Homo sapiens: one gene and its partner. The protein of the gene in region 1 interacts with the protein of each later gene in a pairwise test. Each region holds a gene or a part of one and is shown on either strand. Other genes may lie near its edges.

Region 1 (7,554 bases):
TTTCACTTTTCAAATGAAATGATACCTATGTGCATATGATGCCCACACCACCGTTTATTTATTTCATCCTGTGTAGCCTTGGGAGTTAGCAAGAACATCATACTACTTCATGAGCTCTTGGGTACAATCTTTTCAAGATCAGTCTTACCATTAGGTCTGTATACTCGGCTAATTTTGTGTCATCAACAGTCTTGTTTGCTTTTTCTAGCAGGTCCTTTAGAAAGTTCTGTTAAAACAAAGAACACTTAGATTAATTTCATTAATAATATATCGTCTACTTTCATTTCAGAATGCCTTGGAACAGGACATACCAGGAATGCAAAGAAAGTCTCCTTTTGAGGGGTAGAAGCAGGTGAGTAGAGGAACTTATAATAGAAGAAAGACTAAACCAGGTTGTCCTCCTGGCATTCCAGCAATGAAACTACCTTTGACAGGAATAATACCTGCTTTTTACTGAGACTTGATTGATCATTGTCTGTGCATTACCATGACTTTATGATTTCAATTAACCTGAATAAAACCTTTTAAAACCAGCCAGCCCAATGGATGCATTTCTTCTTACTGATATCTTCACAAGTACTCATTGGATTGTTCTGCAAGAAACACAAGGGCCTTTATACCTTTGGAATATTGTGAAAAAATATCAGTAAACCAAATAGAGATCTATCCCTAATTTCAAATCCATTTTCTGCTCCCCAGGCTGTATTTACACATTAGTTTATAGCCAGCATGATGCTTATTTCTCCAGAGGGCCAGTTGGGTAGTTTTTAGCCTAATGCAGTCCAAAGCACTTTGGTTAAAATGCTTCCACTGACTATTTAAATTAACAAAATTGGCCACAGTTGATGTCATTGAATCTTTGAAAGATATATGAATCATATTAAAATAGAGATTAATGTGGGAAGGATGAAAAAAAGATGATTATTAACTTGACACCTGGAGCTTAGGAATGAATTTAAGTTTTTTTAACAGAAACATAAATAAAAGCTTTACAAAGATTTGCCATATAAGTGACAGTGTAAGCACTTTATAATAGTCATTCATTTTGTTTAGTGCTATTCATTCGTAACTCCTTTATTTTCTCAGAAAATGAATTAATGCAATTAGGAAAAACTAGGCAGATACTGTGCCCAGATATTATTGAAGGATTAGATTTCTTTGATTTAGCAATGACTTATCTCTCTCCTAAATGTTCCAGTTCTGGGCTGATTTGATGCCACTTTTTTAAAGGAAAGAGACTCTTTTCTTAGTTTGATAAAAATTTTTTACTTCAAATATTCCACTTCAAATCCAAAGTGAAGCATGGAAAATTCAAAGTTATCTGTTGGGGTTGAATTTTATTTTTGAGCCTTCTGGGGCTTTTGTCAGAGATTAATTGGGTTAAAAAGCCTCATCAGAGACTAAAATGGTGGTCACAAAAATAGCCTCGGAGAAACCTTGGGACGCAGAGATTCAAAGTCGTGTCTGAGAGCAAGTGATGTTTTACTCTATTATGGATCTTAAAATTAGCTTTCTTGAAAGATCCATTAAAAAAGAATGCCAACTTATCTTCAAAATTCCCCAGGGAAGAGGACTTCTATTTAGAATCTCTTTCTGAGAATAAAATTTAGAACAAAGAAGGAGGCTTTTAGAATATTTAGAGGTCAGTATTGGAAATGAGCTAAGGTTTTCATTATGAACTAAAAAGGATCTTTAAAAGAATATTTTTGGTCTAACTAATAAAATAAAAACACAGTGGCTTAACTGTCACCTTGTGGATTGCTGAGCTGCAAGTTTGTAAAATACACTGTTTTCAGTGACTTCACATTAAAAACGTTTACATTTTCAAGAGGATAAAATTGAGTATGTTTTAGCCATTTTGCCATGGCCCAAATGTCCCCGTTCCATCTTTAAAATTGTATGCTACTCAAACTATGTTGAATTATGACTAGAACTGTTGATATTCATATTTCCCCACATAGCAAAAGAGCAGCTCTTAATAAATGAAGTCTGAAAGCATGTAGTGCTGTGGGGGTGGGGTGGGGAATCATTCTTAGCATTATCAGATATTCTAGGTACAAATCCAGGTTCTCTTCCTAGGCAGCTGTGTAATCTTGAAAAATCATCAAATCTCTCTGCATTCCAATCTCACTGTTTTTATATTAGGAGTGATAATACCTGCCTTGCATATTTTCTGTGAGGATTAAATTTTAAAATACACTTCAAGCACCTTGTACTCTGCCTGACAGATAGTCAGTAAATATTAACTCACTTATATTTTAGTCACTCTATGTTCTAAAAATAGAAAAAGTAGGGTCTTTCAGATGGCGATGTTTTGGGGTCGGCTTGAGGAAATGAGAAGAATACTTCCATATTCCTGAAAGGCTAGTAAATTGAGTTCATGAATAATATAATTTATTTTATGTTGCATGTCACAAAAGCTTTCATGTGCAGAATCTTACTGGAGCTTCACAATAAGCCTGAGAGGAAGGATTTATTACACTCATTTTAAAGATTAAAGAAAATTGGAAAGATATAGTAATTAATGAGTTAAGACTTGATTTCAGATCTCTGCCTTTTCCTTTATATCCTCCTCTGTGATATCCGAAGTGATAAATTCATTCTCTAAGTTGCAGTTTTTCAAAAGTTTAATTTTAGAAGATTTTTTATTTTTTATCATCATTGCTGAGAGTCAGTAGGTTGTGTAGAATGTCTACAGGCCTTGGAGGCAGACAAGCCTGGATTTGCACATCAAGGCTCTGTCCGATTTCTGTGTGGCCTTCAGTATATCATTTAACTTCTCTCAACTCTTCCTCAATGGGGTAATACAATGTCATACAACTTACGCAAAGATTAAATAAGGCATTATGTGTAAAGTAGTTGGCATACAGTAGCTATTCAGTAACTTTTTCTTCTTTCTTTTGTAAGAAAATTTATATATATATGTGTTTATTTTGAGAACTAAAACTACAAATTTCAATAAAAGAATGGCTTATTCGGCTTATCTATAATTCTATCTGTCTGTCTGTCTTATATTTGTGTACACCACAAAAAATGTTAATTTTTTGCATTACTGTACAGAATTTCCAGAAGCAATTGAAGATGCTTTTTTGATCTGGTACTTCATTAACAATGTCGAAGAGTAGGTGAAAATGTGACACTGTTCAACATTAGTTTCTTTTGTGGGAGGTTTTTTAAAAAGCTAGGAAACTCTTAGTTCATAATTGCATCTGAAAGGAAAAACTTAGTACAAGTTTTTATTTGCTTACCTTAAGCTCCTCAGTTTCTATGAAGCCACTGTGGTCAGTATCATATTTTCTCCATGTCTGTAAGTAATTTTGGATAAGGAAAACAAACACATTTTTAATAAAAGGAACAATTTTCCTACTTTAAGCAGCTTTCTTAAAGGGGCAGCTTTCTTATACCTTCATGAATTCCTCACAGGACTTCAGCTGCTGGCATCGGAAGAGCAGCAGGAAATTCTCTTCTGTGGGTAATACGTGAGCCAACTGGAAAAGATTTAAGAAGAGAGAAACGTGTTGTAAGTTGCTCAAAAACAAGTCTCTGCCATTACCTGCTGCTTAGTTTTTCTTCAACGTGTTCCCTCACAGGCTAGAAAAGTAGGAGAGGAAAAACATTAGAGTCGGCTTTCCCTTTCTGGTACTTTCCTATGGAGCGCTGTCGATTCTCCAACGCTCGTGTGCCCTTGTGTGCTTGGTTCTTTGGCCAGTGAGGTGGCCGCAGCAGACCTGTGCTCAGGTAGAACTAGCGTGGCCACTTCTTGTCTGCTGGACATTCAGGCAGATTCATCCTCGTGGCTTGAACCCTTCAAGTGTTCTATGCCACAGATTAGTGTTCTATGCCTCTCTCCTCTCTCCTCACAGGGTCACAGAAAGGCACATGTGGGGGCCATAAATTTCATGTGAAGTGAAAGAAACCATGAGGAACATAAATGTTGGGGAGGGGAGTGAAGGGGGAAAATGTATTCCCAAGCCCGAGGAGAAAGCCTACCATGAGATACAAGAGAAGATAAACCAAAGACAATCGTAAGGCAATGGAAAAGAAATTCACCATGAATGGTGGGGCGTTAAACAGGAATAGGAAAAGCCAGTTCTCAAATTGTTGCTTTCTGCTGAAAGGACATCCACTGCTTGAATCCAGGGCTGGGGTTTATTTTCTGATCTCCACGGCATGCCTCTATGACATTTTCCCTTAGATCTCATTTCAAAACTTCAATCCTCCTCTCTTTTTTTTTTTTTTGGAAGAAAAAAGGATTCCATATCCCATTTTATGACTAATCTATTGCGTACAGAGAAGGAAGGAGCTGGATTGATGGCTCCACTACAGATGTGAGATCTATTTCTGGCACAGTAGCTAATTAGCTGTGGTCCCCAGCAACCCCGAGCCATTTCTGGACTTCAGTACCCTCATCACTAAAACAAGGACTTGAAATAGAAGCCAGTGTTTCTTGAATATATTGGGTTCAAAACGCCTTCTGTTGGAAGCACTGCATTTTCACCATTAAATAATGAATCTACACACACTATATTTCATCTAATTTCCAGGATTTGATGAATTCCCTAGATCACGGGCATGGACGGACCCTCATCCGTGGATTTTAGGCCAACAGCCTGTAGTCTAGATCAGCCTTAAAGTCAGAGTCAGTTCTAAAAGTTCTACCAAGTTATAGAAAATACTATCATAACTTTTTTTAAAAAATTCATCCTTTTAGGTTCATTTAAAAATTTAATATTTAATATAAAATGCACTATTCTACTTTATATGCAAGGAATCTAATTTTTCTTATGCCTGTGTATGCCCTTTAGCTTATCTTATGTTTAGATTTTTGAAATAATATTTCAAATTAAAACCACTCGATTTATACGCACCACACATGTGGGTGAGACTAAGGGAAAGGGCCAAACCTTATGTCAACATGTTTAATATGACCTAGTTATAAAACATTTTCTTATTTATTTTTAAAGAAAGGTCACTAGTGTGGGTAGATGATAATATATCTAAAAAGTAAAAATGGGGGTTTATAATGTGCCAGTGCTTTTAAAAAAATGTAATTAGCTTTTGGTACATAAACACATTTGCATCATTGCAGTGTGTGTGTGTGTGTGTGTGTGTGTGTGTGTGTGTGTGTGTGTGTTATCCAGGTCCCTTATTAAACTCAGGACATACTTCTGTGACCTTTGCATTCTTTCAATTCCTTTGAATACTTGAATCATAAAATTCTATACCTCAGAAATAACATAATTTAATTTAATTCAAGACCAAATTTTTCAATTGAGGATGCTAAGGCCCAAAGAGGTTGAATGATGACCTGATGATTGGCAGACTGAAAATCACTTTAATTTGGTGATTATTAGTAGATTAAGTCAACAACATGCTTGTTGAAGACAGTAATAGAGTGGTTTGGTTGCTTCTTTGCTCTTGGACTGCAAATAATGAATTTGTTGGTGATTTTTACACGTGACAATGAGATAGTTTAAATATGATAAGCTGTTTCTACTCATTGAAATCTAGAACACCATTTTCCTTATAAAAATCCCTTTTTTTTCCTCATCTGTAAGTGGGCTCCTAGTGGAAAGTAGCTATAAATGATTTTCATTATAAAGTATCCAGATATCTGGTAAGTTAGGCCTAGAATGTAGGTCTCCCCCCAGAGCTAAGGGGGAAGAGGAGAAGGGAGGGAGAATGGCAGTGGGTGGGCTCGGCATGGAGAGGGGCTCTGGAGGACGGAGAGCCACACCCCTCCAGTCTTGTTGAGCCTGGCCTCTTCTATAATAATACTTTCCTGGAGGGATTCTGAAGAATATCTCCTTGAGGATTTTAAAGAAGATGGGAAGAGAAGAAAAAGTAACACAAGAAAGAAGAGGGAACAAAGATGGAAGACAATAAAACACATCAAAGAGAAGAAAATATATCAGAGGCAGACATTTTGAGGGAAAGATTGAACAATGGAAATGGATGTTATGTATACATTTTGGAGGGTTCTGCATGATATAGAAGGTCTAGCCACATTTTATTATGTTTTTTTCATGAATATAAGTGTTCATTTAGGAAACAGGAAATAGCTAACCCCAACTCGTCCTTTATTTATTAGTATGCAACTTGTTAGATACTTCTTACAATTTTTGCGTGACCTTCCTCTAGACCATTAATTTCAAGAGGGCAGGGAATAATACTTTTCTGCATCCCCTGAATGCCCAGCATGGTATCTAGCATGTTATATGCCTGAAATAAATGCTTGCGGATTGGTTGGTAATTTTACTTTATTAAAAACATCTACTTAAAAGAATTGAGTTATTTTTTGCTTATCTTCATCATAATTCTCTATTTTGTTTGGATTTTTATAATTAGTGTGTGTTGCTTTGAACAAAAAAGAATAATTTTTCTTTAAATATTTTACATCTCCAAATTCACTGAATACATAAAAACAGAAAAAAACAAATGAATGAACTAGTAAGCAATCACTAAATGTAAAATTAGGGAAATTGCCATCTTTGTTTCAACATAAAAGTTCATGTAACTCACATAAAGTTGAGAGGTCTCCTGAATGTCAGATACAGAGATAGTAAAAATGCTCTTCATGTCTACTATAAATGTGTATTTCTTGCCCATACTGCTTTGGTTTTATACTTAAATTATTAAAAAATACAGATTACATCAATGTGCAACATATTCAATCTGTTTTAATTTCACTGAACCATTAATGTTACACTCAACATGATACCATCCTATTTTATAAATGTTAGAAAGGAGTCTTAAGCATATAAAAATTATTATGTGTATATAGGATGTGGCTATAGTGAATGTAAAGAAATCTTTCTTAAGATATGTTTCACAATGTGGTGGTCCTGTGTTGTCTCTCGGTTCTTCTCTCAATGCGTATGAATCAATATTCAAGTTTCAGAGCTGGGCACAGTAATTCTCCAGCTGTAGCCTTTATGACTATGTCTATAATGTGCCAAAGGTCTTTCATATAGGAGGTGTTAAGTAGAGTTGCTTTATTCTCAGATATGCTAAGTCACTGCTGTTTATAGAAGTATCCAATACTTCTTATTACAATATTATTGGTGATTCTGTAATCTTTGGGCTGCCTGCCTGCTCTTTTATGAACTCCCAAAACTTTTTTATGAGTTGGAAAAGAGAGTGAAGAATATCAAGGGGATGAGTGGAAGGCAGGTAGCTAAGGAAATAAGTAGAATCCCTCAGAGCTTCATTTCTGAGAACTGATTGCTTGTTATCAAGAGTAGGAAAAAAAACCAACAACTTCCTACTTGCTTGTCTCCCCTACTAGTCTACGTGCTCCTTGAGGATGGGGTCTGTGTCTTATTTACTGTTTTGTGGCCCAGAAACTGCACAAATTTTAGTAAATATTTTATTGAAGCAATATATAAAGGTAATTAACTATTTGTTTAGCATCAGGATAGGCTGTAAATAAATGGAGGTAAAGTTCCTTTGGAGATAATTCCAATAACTTATTACTGAGCTGTGAATAGGGGTTGGGGTGGACATTGTGATATGCTACCCAGAACTCCCTTCAAGTGCTGGGAGTGTTGCTGC
Region 2 (7,554 bases), on another chromosome or scaffold:
GGAGTCTTTGAGTTTGCTCTCTCAACCTTTTGGAAGAGGCCAGTCATGGAATTGAGGCCTGCTGGTTCCTTTGTCAACTTCATTTCCCTGACTGTTAGCAAACTTTGCCGCAGTAATGCTGCATAGCAAACTGAATCTCAGCAGCTTATAACCAGCACTTGTTCACATGTTCATGGGGCGGCAGGTCTACCAAAGTTCAGCTGAGCTAGGAAGGCTTCAGCTGGTGGCTTGGCTGCAGGCTGCCCAGGTGTGGGTCCAGGCTGTGGGTTGATGTCAGGCCTGCTGCATGTAGAGTTACTTAAAAGCAAATGGAATAATATAAGTAAAGCGCCTGGCATTGTGCCCACCCACCATCAGGTGGGCACTTGTGTTAACCATTAATTCCTGACTGCCACATTGCATGGTGATCTTCATGCACAGTGGAAGTGTATTTAGACTTAATAACGTTTCTGTGAAAAGCAGTGTTCTGAGAGACTAAGTTCAAAACTTTGGTGCATATAACTTCTGACCTTGCCTCCTCTTTTTAACATTTTAGCCAGCTTACCAAAACCTGAGGCAGAAAGTGGATAATTTTGTGTCAACACATCTGGACAAGCAGGAATGGAATCCTACGATGAACAAAAACCAGTTGCGAAATGGTCTGAGGCAGAGTGTGGTTCAGTAAGTAAGCAGAATTTAAAGCTTTTGAAAAGGCAGTCATCACAAGTGTGATGCACAAGAAGGTTGAGGTCTCTGTTTAGTCAAGGTTGATGGGACTTTATATCAAGTATCACTTAGGAGTTGCAGCAGTCTGCTCTTTTGTTATAATTAAGGTTAAAGGAAGCAAAGTACTCAGTTGAAATTCCAGTTTCTGCAGCCTGTGAAGGCCTCCTGTGTGCATCTCTACTGGGTGCATCAAAAGGCATTCCAAATCGTGAGACATTTTCCCTGCTCTTTGAAGTTTCAGTGTTGTCCAAACATATATGTGAGTTTTATACCAAGATATCAGGGTTTGGATCTTGGGCAAGAGGAGTTGGATCTTTATTCTCACAGGTGAATGTGAACTAAATAAATTCTTTGAGTCCACCAGGACTGCCACCTCTAAAGTGTAATGGTGACAGCTTTCAGGAAGGCATAGTCTTAATAAAGTATCGTACTTCACAGTAACAAACTGAACCTTAGTTAATAAAGGTGCTATTGATAGCTTATCTGAGTGACGCACAAAAGTGGAGGTGGAGGAGGGTACAGAAATGGGAGAACACATTAGTGATTGCCTGGGGTTACGGATGGGAGGAGGGGGTGAGTGTGACTTGCAAGTGGTAGCACAAGGGGGAGCTTGCAATGGTGCAGTTAAGTGTCACTGAATTGTGCTGTGCTCACGTGCAACAGCTCGTATGGTAAAGTCGCACGGAGCTACACACACAAATAAGTGCAAGTGTAACTGAAGTCTAAATAAGGTCTGGATTGGACCAGTGTCATTTTCCTGGTTTTGATATTGCACTAGTTACGCAAGGTGCTGACATTAGAGCTGGCTGGGTGAAGGGTGCGTGTGGAACTCCCTGGACTCTTCTTCACAACTTCCTGTGAATATGCAGCGATTTTAAGATTTCTAAAGTTTTTAAAAGTGTTTTACTAACAAGCTAGTACTTCCAATATGGCTGAATGCTGGGAAGAAGCCTGATAGCAGAAGATGCCCAGTGCCTTGTCATTCTGGAGTCAGTACCGAGTGCCTTTCCCTTTCTCCAGAGAACAGACTGGTGGCACCGGGCTCTTTCAGAAAGAAGGGGACAGTAGCTGCCCCTTACTGAGCAACTCTTTATTACATGTCTGGCACTGGTCTTTACATATATCACTCATCCTCATGAAAAGCCTGTTTCACAGCTAAAGTCACTTGTGTTTACCCTGTCTTGAGTAAATCAAAACACTGAACATTCTGAAATATTTGGAAAGTTGCCATGATTGTATGAAGGCTGTTAACATTGCTTTGATTTCTGTAATGAGCATGGATGTCATTCTAGAGGTATGCATGTGGCGCTTCCTCTTGCATTTCTTTAGTAGGAATTGTAATACGGAAAAGTGCACAGAAGTTCAGTGAAACAGATAATTAGAACATCCCTTGATCACCCAGATCGAGAAATGGACTCACACCCCCGAAACAGCCTAGCTCCGGATGTACTTTCCTCCTTTCGGAAGTTTTCCATATTCCTGACTTTTATACTAATCATTTCCTCTCTGCATAGTTTTTACCACCTCTGTGAAGTTGTTGTTTTTTTTTTTTTCCCTGCTTTTTGATTTGACTTAGAATGTGTTTAACCTGAAAACATGAACTTGGCTTTAATACTGGGACATTTCTCCACAATTCTTGCTAGCATTTTGAATTTGAGGCAAAATCTACTGGAGTTTCGAAACGCAGACTTTCTGCTTGCCCCCAGGTGCTCTCCCCAGGTGGACACTGCAGGCCTTCAGAGCATTGGCTCACTGGCCTGGCTGTTCTGGCCCAGATGCTGTAACCCAGTGCCACAGCCTAGAGGGTTTAACAGGAAATTAGCCTGTGCTATTGCACTGAATTATGACGAATAACTCTTGTAACTGTACAATATTTGTTTTTTCCATCTTGTACATTGGGCTCCTGACAAGATTTTATGTTTTCCTCAAAAGTTTAAGAATCTCCAGGAAAGTGAGCTGCACTCCCTTGGTAGTTTGTTTCCCCTGATCAGGGGTTTTGGTCAGTTGGGGATGCTTTAACAAGGCGCCGTAGACTAGGTGGCTTGTAAACAATGGAAATTTACTTCTCACCATTCTGGAGGCTAGAAGTCCAAGACCAAGATGCCAGCATGGTCAGGTTCAGGGGAAGGCCTTCTTGCAGGCAGCAGACTGCCAACTGCTTGTTCTTCTCATGTGGTGGAAAGAGAGCTCGCTAACTTCCTGGGGTCCCTTTTGTAAGGGCATAAATTGCATTCGCGGAGGCTCTGCCCCCATGACCCGATCGCCTCCCAAAGGCCCTACCTCCAAAGGCCATCACATTAAGGATTAGATTTCAACATAGGAAGTCTGGGGGACACAGGCATTTAGTTGATAATATCAAGCTTTTACATCTGGTAAAGGACCCTGTGAATCCGACTCAGGAAGTGGTTTGGTAAAGTTGGAAAGGTATTGGCTTGTGACTGAGGAGAGGTGGCTTTCCTTTGTTAGCATCCCATAGCCGGATGCTAACTTTGCTGTATTTAACGATGCTCATCACTAAGGGCCGATACTGTCTAATGCCTGGTCTACCTGAAAATGTGCCCTTCAGTGCTCTAGTGGTGGTGTATTTACATCTAGGCTTCCTGTCGATAAGCTGTTAGTTACCATTGAATCCAGGGAGCACTTTACACACTAATCATCTTTCCCAGTTCACAGCCTGTTTCTTATCTTCTTTGTCATGATGTACATTTACTCATGTCTTTCCTTTGCTGTACCCTGACAGACCATTTGCCCACTTGCTGCCCAGCCTATTTTTACCCGAAGGCTTAAATGGCCTCTGAAGTCTCAAGTCTACGGGAAAATAAGTAAAACCTGCCCACATGCTTGTGATGGTATTGGAATATTTCAGTCCTTTGAGAAGAACACTTCACTTTGAACCTTACGGGCTATTTTCCAGACTGTCCAAATATGATTTGTTTCCTCTCACCATCATTTCCAGTACCCTGTCCCAAGTGTTTGAATATAGACATTGATATGCCCTGATTTTTGCTCTACTTCAGAAAGGATCGGGGATGTAATTTAGCCCTCTAGGAGCTTGGAACTAATTTGTTTGTCTATTTCTTGTTTGCTTCCAAGTTGCTTATTATGTGTTACAGGTAGCAACTACAGCTGAAGGCCATGGTGAATTGCTGGTGATGTAAATACTCCCAGCCCTGACTGATCGGCCTTGTTTAAATTTTAAGGATTAGTAAACAGGTTGCTGCTGGAGCTACTTCTGCTTAGGCTATTAGGAGAATAAATGTTGAAGGAAATGGAGTCCAATTCGGGGCTTACTGGCTTTGACAGTACGAGGAAGCTTTTCAGTGCCACACGTGTCAAACTCTTTCTCACCATGCTGTCATTTGTTTGTTGTTTTGGAGCAACTCACTTAGTTTTGTTTTTGATTCTTTTGTACAAGGTTGGGTGATTGTGGGTGAGATTGTGCAGTAGGAATAACAGCTGCTGGTTGAGAATTACCCCTCAAAAGTGAAAATAGCGTGAGCTGTATATGGTAAGTGGATTGACCTCTAAACTCCCTAGAAGGGCTGTAGCTTTGAAGGTGGACATTTATTGGGCTCGCACGTGACACTTATTGGGGCTAAAGATGAATCCCGAAGGAACTAAATAACAGAATGATCTGTTTGTCTCCACAAGGTCAGGGATGTTGGAAGCTGGAGTAGACAGGATTATTTCTCAGGTGGTGGATCCAAAACTTAACCACATCTTCAGGCCACAAATAGAACGAGCAATTCATGAGTTCCTGGCGGCCCAGAAAAAAGCAGCTGTGCCAGCACCCCCTCCAGAGCCCGAAGGCCAGGACCCTCCAGCTCCATCTCAGGACACTTCCTAAGGTCCAGTATCCTATCTTCTGTCCAGGAGTATGCATCTCTGGCTTGTAGATATGTAAAATGGATAGGAATGGGGTAGGCCGTAATTGAGGATCATTCAGGAAGTATTTACTGCAGATGGACTTCACCTACTGTTATAAGTCACTTTTTACTGAGAACTAATTAGTAGCAGTTTCCTGTGTCAGTGACTGATTTTCTGTTCCACCAGCGCTAAACATGTAAGCTATGGATAGATGCTTCATTAGAAATCAGCTGGGATGATTGGTGTGCATAAAGGGGATTCAAATGAAAGTCTTATTTTGCTGAAATGTTTAAATGAGTCTCTCCTGGACATGAGTTAACTTAGGCTTGCAATTTTATTTAAAATCAAGCAGTGCCTTCTGAAGTGATATCCTAAATGGGATTCAGAGTCTGCTTTGAGTGCGACTCGATTTCCATGAATTTAGAAGGAGTTTGTTTACCACTATCAATTACCATGGGATTCTTCTGTTAGGAACACTCCCCCTTTTTAAATTAAATTTGGAATTAAATGTAATTTTAAACAGCTGTAGATGTACAAAAGAATGCTTTTTGCAGGTTTTGGGAGACATTAGTAGGAGCAGCGATGAAGTTAGCAGTGGACTTTTCGCCGTTGTTGGTGACTGCTGGGATATGTTTTATCCCTTCATTCTGATTTGGTGTTCTTTTTAAGATTCTCTGAGATGCCTGTTATAATCAGTAAGTGAGGTGAATTGACTAGGGCGTTTTGAGTGTCAGTGATGAGCAACGCAAGAGCATCAGGACTGTCTTTTTGTTCCTCTATTGAGAGAAGCCCTTGAGTCCAATATGGAGTGTAAAACATTCATTTTAAGTCTTTCTTTTTAATTGTAAATTCCTTTAGGAACATAAAAGTGAATATAGTCTGTTATCAATAAATAACATTTTGATATGATTATCTTTCCTTTTTAGAATACGCCAGACACCTTTTGAAAGCTAATTTTTGGTGAAGAAATGGATTCGGTTACATAAGAGTGCAACTTCAGACTGAAGATAGGCCAAGGTCGTCACTGATCTCAAGATTTCAACCTTGACCATGGGCAGTGACCAGATTGAAAGGGGAGCAAGTTCGGCAGTGGGAGAGTTGACCGTGTCACCCCCTGCATTGTGCTGCCATTTGGCCAGCCTGTCCAAGGGCATGACACCAAGTAGACACTACAGAGAGAGAAACACTACAGCAACCCAGGGTTGTCCTGAAACAGACTTTTATACTTGAACATGGAGACTGCACATGGACTTTAGGGTTTGTGCTGTGGGATAAACGGAAGCTACAGTGAGAACATAGCCAGTCCCAAAGACAATTTCAAAGAAAAATGACAGTAAAGATTAGCTGGGAGTAGTCTTTGACAGTGCTTATTTGATACTGTCTCTCAGAGTTTGCAAACCAGATTGTACAAGTCATTAGCGTCAGATAGCTTTAAAGTTGTGACCTTCTTGTACATGAATCTTCTAGCCAGTTTCCTTTCCTTTGTAACGAAACATGAAATCCTAGAATGTATGAGAAGTTCAGACATTAGGCATAAGGAAACTCGTTTGCAGGCTCTCTGTCCAGGGCTGCTTCCTGTCCTGGAGGGGCCAGTGAGTCTTAGGTATGTTTATTTTATTCTCACATTTGTGTTTTTTTAGAAAAGTGAATGGTCAATAAATGGCTTATCTTTCATAATAAAATTATTTGATACTTTTACTCCGAAGCTTCAGCTGAAGCTTAAACCTCAGGTCTGTGAAGGGCAACCTTTGTCTTCTGCCTCTGTGCACCACACATGATCTACTGGCAGTGAAGATTGGTACATATAACTTGGAACTATGAAACTAGTAGGTGTAGCTAGTAGTGGGCTGTTTCTCTCCTCCCTGAGCCATTACTGACACTGGTCTTTAGTTGAGGTAGTCCGTGGTATGTGTCAGTGTTTGTCATCCTTGTGTGTGCAGAAGTAGCACCTGGGGATTTAAGGGAAAATGCATATTTCTGATTAAGAAGTTCTGGGGTGGGACCTAAGAGTGAGTGTTTCTGACAAGCTGCCAGGTGATGCTGATGCTGCCAGGCCTCTGAACATACTCTGTATAATAAGCCTTGGATAATATATCCAAGATTATGTCTAACTAAGTCTGTGGTTCTTGGTTGAGTCTACTACTGCATATTGCTGCTAATCTGATCAAAATTTTAACCAATTCAGTTGGTTCCCTGTTAAGACAAAGGCTCCACTTCCACCTTTACCATGAATACCCCTGTATGAGCACTGCAGTGCCATATTCAGCAAGATGCTTGGTAGCATGTGCCCTAATTTTAAAGCAAACTGGCCACACGTTTAAGGCAGGTGCCAGTTATATCTGACGTGTGGTCTGTTCCCACCTGGTAGGTGCAGTTCCATTTCAAGCTGCCTTACAGTTGCAGGAGTCAACAAAGTTCTTAACCCCAGAAAATGGACCCTCCACTCCTCTCTACTACTAGGCAGACAGGGAGTGGCCAGAATTAACCAGTCCTGTGCTTGCAGAAAAGCTGCTCAGACTAACTGGAGTGTCTCCTCTTCAGGACCACATAGCTTTAATGGGAAGTTCCTTCCCTGTGAGGCATCCTTCTGGGAGGGAGATCTCCACACAACTACTTTGTGTTGACCCTCCCAACATCTTGCCTATCCCGCACTGACCTCAACTAGCAACAAAGGGCAAAAGCCCAGAGAAGGCTTCACCCTTTCTGCCCCCAAATGCTCAATTAACTGCATTTTATATATGTTTTTGGCAGACAGTTTTTGGTTCATCTCAGTTCTCTTACTTTGCTGCTGCTTTTACTAGAGATGGCTGGACCAGTTGATGAGAAACACCCGAATTTTCACAGAATGTTAAATGTGCCACATACCAAAGAGTTTCTATTTTTTTTTAAATCATTCTGTTATATCCACCAAGATTCACCTAGATTCGAGATTATTTCATTTGAGAACGTGAGATTATAGAAGTAATTGGGCACATCGTTACT

The links.
Region 2: the proteins of CALB1 (region 1) and BOD1 interact in binary tests that used the Homo sapiens proteins (3 or more experiments, as listed by UniProt).

Annotation. Positions count from the first base shown.
Region 1 is NC_000008.11:90,065,750-90,073,303, forward strand, and holds part of CALB1 (calbindin), read right to left. Parts: intron 3,489-7,554; coding exon 3,405-3,488; intron 3,306-3,404; coding exon 3,249-3,305; intron 534-3,248; exon of another isoform or gene 290-533; intron 227-289; coding exon 149-226; intron 1-148. UniProt on the Homo sapiens protein: Buffers cytosolic calcium. May stimulate a membrane Ca(2+)-ATPase and a 3',5'-cyclic nucleotide phosphodiesterase.
Region 2 is NC_000005.10:173,606,237-173,613,790, reverse strand, and holds the end of BOD1 (biorientation of chromosomes in cell division protein 1), read left to right. Parts: intron 1-535; coding exon 536-660; exon of another isoform or gene 661-664; intron 665-4,120; exon of another isoform or gene 4,121-4,213; intron 4,214-4,356; coding exon 4,357-4,552; 3' UTR 4,553-4,553; intron 4,554-5,498; coding exon of another isoform or gene 5,499-5,526; 3' UTR 5,527-6,646; downstream 6,647-7,554. UniProt on the Homo sapiens protein: Required for proper chromosome biorientation through the detection or correction of syntelic attachments in mitotic spindles.